2 separate regions of the Homo sapiens genome follow, and region 1 is linked to region 2. Evidence: fine-mapped expression QTL. A gene starts in region 2. The other region holds a variant in brackets. All regions are shown on one strand. Distances are between the middles of the regions. Region 1 overlaps PIK3C2A (phosphatidylinositol-4-phosphate 3-kinase catalytic subunit type 2 alpha). Region 2 holds the start of RPS13 (ribosomal protein S13).

Evidence for each region. PIP is the estimated chance that this variant, and not a neighbour inherited with it, causes the effect. A credible set is the group of variants that fine-mapping cannot tell apart.
Region 1: its variant is the best candidate, but not a certain one, in a credible set for the expression of RPS13 in pancreas (GTEx, PIP 0.71).

Annotation. Positions count from the first base shown.
Region 1 is chr11:17,108,762-17,111,679 of GRCh38, reverse strand. PIK3C2A (phosphatidylinositol-4-phosphate 3-kinase catalytic subunit type 2 alpha) reads left to right here. Exons shown (of 33, transcript NM_002645.4): 22 at 1,119-1,248. Among named protein-coding and RNA genes, the nearest start is that of RPS13, 33 kb to the right of the region's middle. The variant A/T (reference allele first, on the strand shown) is at 1,503.
Region 2 is chr11:17,076,246-17,079,163 of GRCh38, reverse strand. RPS13 (ribosomal protein S13) reads left to right here and starts at 1,497. Exons shown (of 6, transcript NM_001017.3): 1 at 1,497-1,545; 2 at 1,687-1,735; 3 at 1,918-1,996. The coding sequence starts at 1,523. RefSeq lists an enhancer at 1,264-1,463.

The sequences.
Region 1 (2,918 bases), 33 kb before region 2:
GTCTCGAACTCCTAACTTCAGGTGATCTGCCCGTCTCGGTCTCCCAAAGTGCTGGGATTACAGGCGTTAGCCACCATGCCCAGCCAAGTTTTAATATTTTTTAAGGCAAATTCTCCTTATTCTTTTCCATAATTTTCTTGGCTAGTCTCAGAATGTATTCCTTATTATGTGTTTTTAAATTATTTTATCCAGTTTAAAGAAAATGAAAACTTATTCAAGTTTTAGTTAAAAAGTAATTCATTTTGGGGGGTTAATTTTTTTAAGTAAACTTTTCATTTTGAGATAATTATAGATTCATAGGCAATTGTAACAAACTGTACAGAGGAATCCTGTGTACTCTTCTTCATAGTAATATCTTGTATAACTGTAGTGCAGTATCACAATCAGGATATTGGCATTGATACAGTCAAAATGTAGAACATTTCATCATCCCACAGATTCTCCATGTTGCCTTTTTAGAAAATTGAATATAGGCCACATATGGTGGCTCATGCCTGTAATCCCAGCACTTTGGGAGGCTGAGGCAGGCAGATCACCTGAGGTCAGAAGTTCGAGACCAGCCTGGCCAACGTGGTGAAACCCCATCTCTACTAAAAATACAAAAATTAGCCAGGTGTGGTGGCAGGCACCTATAATCCCAGCTACTCAGGAGGCTGAGGCAGGAGAATCAGTTGAACCTAGGAGGCGGAGATTGCAGTGAGCCGAGATGACCCCTCTGCACTCCAGCCTGGGTGATAGAGCAAGACTCAGTCTCAAAAAATAAATAAATAAATAAATAAATAATTGAATATAATTCACATACCATAAAACTGAACCTTTTAAAGTGTACAGTTCAGGGAACTGAGATATGAAGAGGTTAAGTACCTTTCCCTAGAATGCTGCAGAAAAATAAAAAGGCAGTTCATTTTATAGGTGTGTGCAACCATGCCCAGCTAATTTTTGTGTTTTTAGTAGAGGCGGGGTTTCCACCATGTTGGCCAGGCTGATCTCGAACTCCTGACCTCAGGTGTTCTGCCCACTTTGGCCTCCCAAAGTGCTGGGATTACAGCTTTCATAGTATGTAATCTGTTAAGTCTTTTGGAGATGTACAAGTTTCATTTTGTTTCCTTGATTTCAAGGTTGGTGAAGATCTTCGGCAAGATATGTTAGCTTTACAGATGATAAAGATTATGGATAAGATCTGGCTTAAAGAAGGACTAGATCTGAGGATGGTAATTTTCAAATGTCTCTCAACTGGCAGAGATCGAGGTAAGTTTATTAGCTGTGTCTTGATGTCTTATTTTTTTCCTTGAACTTAGCTTAAAGTGTACCTGCCGTAAACATCCTGATGCAGATACCCTGGTATCACAGTTGTTTCTTATTTTAATCCAGTGTTACTTTATTGATTCAGTTGCTCATAATTAAGTCTCTTTGAAAAATAACTTAGTGGCCGGGCATAGTGGCTCATGCCTGTAATCCCAGCACTTTGGGAGGCCAAGGTGGGTGGATCACATGAGGTCAGG[A/T]GTTTGAGTCCAACCTGGGCAACATGGTGAAACCCTGTTTCTACTAAAAATGCAAAAATTAGCCAGGTGTGGTGGCGTGCCCCTGTAATCCCAGCTGCTTAGGAGGCTGAGATGGGAGAATAGCTTGAACTTGGGAGGCGGAGGCTGCAGTGAGCCGAGATTGCATCACTGTATTCTAGGCTCGGTGACACAGTGAGACTCTATCTCAAAATAAATTAAAAAAAAATTTTTTTAACCTAGTGTAGCCTAAATAAATGCTTTGCAGTAATCAGAGGTGTCCATTAATTGACCCAGTGAGGACTGTATGGTCTTTAGCTTTTAAACTTAAAAATAATGCCATATCTCTGGGTGCAGTGGCTCTCACCTGTAATCCCAGCATTTTAGGAGGCCAAGGCAGGAGGATCACTTGAGTCTAGGAGTTTGAGACCAGCCCAGGCAACACAGGGAGACCCTGTCTCTACAAAAATGAATAAATAGTCTCAGCTGCTCTGGAGGATGGGGTGAGAGGATTACTTGAGCCTAGGAGGTTAAGGCTTCAGTGAACCATGATCATGCTACTGCACTCCAACCCAGGTAAAACAGTGAGACCTTGTCTCAAAACCTAATAAATAAATAAGGCCATATCTAAGTTAAATCAACTTTGATTTCATTTTTATAAAATAAAGTCATACAAAGTTATTTTCTACTAATAGCAGATTTCTATCTTACTATTTATTGAACTGTTTTGAAATAATGGATGTAAAACATCCTAATATCTGATATGTATTATGTGCTCAATAAATGGCAGCCATCATTATTCTTATTCAACAAATGTTTGTTGTTTACCATCTATAAAATGGTAAGAATATATGGTACTCATATTTTAGAAGGAAGCAATAATATGTACAAGTAATCAGAGTATGCTTTAATAAGCTGAAAGCTCTAAAAGTTGTAAAGGCAATACCATCAGGTTTTAAACGAAAGATCATCTGCTGTTGGTGGAAATGAGAAACACTTCACAAATTCTATGCATAGGCACTAGGAAATCACCTGAAAGATAATCGTCCTTCCAATATTTGCCATTCAATTTATGCTTAAATGCCTGTAGTGAAGGGGAATTCACTGCATTTCAAGGCGGTTCATTCTATCCTGTGTAGCTCTGATAGCTATAGATTTCTTTTTCATATTCAGGTGATTAATGGGAACTGAGTCCTGGTGTCTTTTACCCATTGGTTCCAGTTCTGTTCAGAGACTATCATATAATTAAGTTAAATCCATCTTCACCCTTACCAGTAGTGTGGCTTCAGATTCTGAATTCCAAATTCTTCAGCCATTTATGAAATATTACTTTAAATTACCTTATCACCTTATTATTCTCCTTGCAAATGGTTCAGGTAATCTGTTGTCTCTAAGAATGGCACCTGGATTTTGTAGAAT
Region 2 (2,918 bases):
TTGCCAGTTACTTTAAGCTTGTCGACAGGAGTTTGATTTCACTGACCTCCCTCCTTCCTAGAGCTATGCTTACTTTTTAAAATTTTAAGAAGCTGCTTCATTTGCCCATTCTTTCAACGCATTGTTGTGTACCGGCACTGAGTCAGTCTTTTTCTTTCTTTCCTTTTTTTTTTTTTTTTTTAAGACAGAGTCTTGCTCTGTTGCCCAGGCTGGCGCGCAGTGGTGCTATCTCGGCTCACCGCAATGTCCTTCCCGGCTCCAGAGATTCTCCACCTCAGCCTCCTTCGTAGCTGGAACCAAAGGCACGAGCGAGCACGCCCGGCTAATTCTTTGTATTTATAGAGAGGGGGTTTCGCCATGTTGCCCAGGCTAGGTCTGTCTTAAAAGAGCTTCTTCCGGCCAGGCGCGGTGGCTCACGCCTGTAATCCCAGCACTTTGGGAGGCCGAGGCGGGCGGATCACCTGAGGTCGGGAATTTAAGACCAGCCTGACCAACATGGAAAAACCCGTCTCTACTAAAAATACAAAATTAGCTGGAAGTGGTGGCGCATGCCTGTGATCCCAGCTATTCAGGAGGCTGAGGCAGGAGAATCGCTTGAAGCCGGGAGGCGGAGGGTGCGGCAAGCCGAGATCGCGCCATTGCACTCCAGCCTGCGAATCAAGAGCGAAACTCCGTCTCAAAAAAAAAAAAAAGCTTCTTCCTTGACGGTTCCCTTTTCCCATGAAATTCAAATGCTTCATTTTATCCCTCATCCTCTTGGCCTTTGCAGTCTTGCTCCCAAGGCTCTTCCCTGCCCGCCAACTCTCTCACTTGGGAACATAGCTCCGTAAGCCTCTGCCCAACCCTTCTCCCCGGCGAGCCCAGCGCCCCAGAGCCCTGCGCAGGGGAATTCGAGTGCGGAGGGCGGCAGGCATCCGTGGGGACCTGGTTCAACTCCTTAGACCGGTTCTTCACCGTCAGCGACTCTCCCCTGACAGATTAGGGTAGGATTTAGAAATGAGAAATGGAAGCGCTGGCTGGGCGGTAGCCGCTGCCATGGCTTCCCGTGTGGTCCTCATCACATGCTATTGTATCTGTTAATTTATTAGGCGCAGGGCCGACTCTGAGGGATCTAGTGCCAGGACAAAGCCAGGCACTGGTGAATGAGCAAACACCTGTGTATGGCTGCTTCTTCCAGCCCTACCTGCTCCATACCCACCCCCAGCGCAGCATTCGAATCTTTGTGATCTCGGCGTCCACAGGGAATTTCGACGCAAGCTGGCGTCAGCCTCAAATTCCCGCTCTGGCAACAAGGCTGACCAAAGACCGATGCATGCCGGGATGAGGCTGGATTGACGATCTCTTGCGACGCTGAAATGCATTTCGGGAGATGTAGTCACACAGACGGGCGGTGGCTGCGCAGCGTAGCTCCGCCTCCTGCGTGAGAGGAAGCGGGGACGTGTGAGGTCACTTCCTGCGTGTTGGGTGGCTTCCTGCGGCGTTTCCACTCTCGCTCTCCTTTCGTTGCCTGATCGCCGCCATCATGGGTCGCATGCATGCTCCCGGGTGAGCTCGGGGCATCAAGCCGGATTGCTGGGCGGGGGGTGGGAGGAAGACAGGGAGTGTGGGCAGCGGGCCGAGGGGATGATGTTCTGGGCTGCTCTGGCACTAGCCGCCACCTCACCTCGAGACTGCTTCTCTCCCCAGGAAGGGCCTGTCCCAGTCGGCTTTACCCTATCGACGCAGCGTCCCCACTGTAAGTAGCGCGCTGGGACCGGGGAGAATCCGGGGAGGGGGTTGGCATTTGTCTCGGGTGAAGCGACGCCAGGGTGAGGAACTTGCGTGTATGAGGAGCGCGGTTTTGCGGAAGGAGAGACCGCTGTTCTGCGGCGCCATTCCTGGGTTCTCATCCTAAGGCTGCTTTCTATTCCATAACAGTGGTTGAAGTTGACATCTGACGACGTGAAGGAGCAGATTTACAAACTGGCCAAGAAGGGCCTTACTCCTTCACAGATCGGTGAGTGTTTGTGTCTAACATAGCCTATTTCGCCTGTCCTCGTGTGACTTGTAGGATCTAGTAGGTGGTAAAGTTATTTTAAAAATAGCCAAAACTCTGGTCTCGCCACCGTGCTAGAGGCATCATTGTAAGCACTTCACATGTACTGATTTCGTTTAATTCTGACCACAATACTTTGAAATAAATCTTCATGGCTTTCACCCCAGTTTACAGTTGAGGAAGCAGAGGCACACTGCCGCTGGATACTAACCAGCCCCAAATCACACAGCTGTCAAGTGGAGGAGTTGGAATTGGCTAAGCAGAGTGCCTGACACAGTTCCTCACAGTTAGGTGTGGTTTGAATCTCAGCTGCGTGTGACTTCGTGCAAGTGGCTTCATTCAGCAAATGTTTACCTTCTATGTGCTGAACATGGTTCTGGGGCCTGAGAACATACTACTCTCCGACTCCCCCGCCCAAAAAAGCCAGCCGCAATGTGCCTGTAGTCCCAGATACTTGGGATGCAGAGGTGAGAGGATCACCAGAGCCTAGAAGTCCCAGGCTGCAGTGAGCTATGATGAAGCCACTGCACTCCTGGGTGACAGAGAGACCCCACCTCTTTTTTTTTTTTTTTTTGAGACAGTCTTGCTCTTGTCGCCCAGTCTGGAGTGCAGTGGCGCGATCTCAGCTCACTGCAACCTCCACCTCCTGGATTCAAGCGATTCTCCTGCCTCAGCCTCCCGAATAGGTGGGATTACAGGCGCCCGCCAGCAGGCCCAGCTAATTTGTGTGTTTTTGTTTGAGACCGATTCTCACTTTGTCACCCAGGCTGGAGTGCAGTGGTATGATCTCGGCTCACTGCAACCTCCGCCTCCTGGGTTCAAGCAAGCAATTCTCCTGCCTCTGCCTCTGGAGTAGCTGAGACTACAGGCCGCACCACCACGC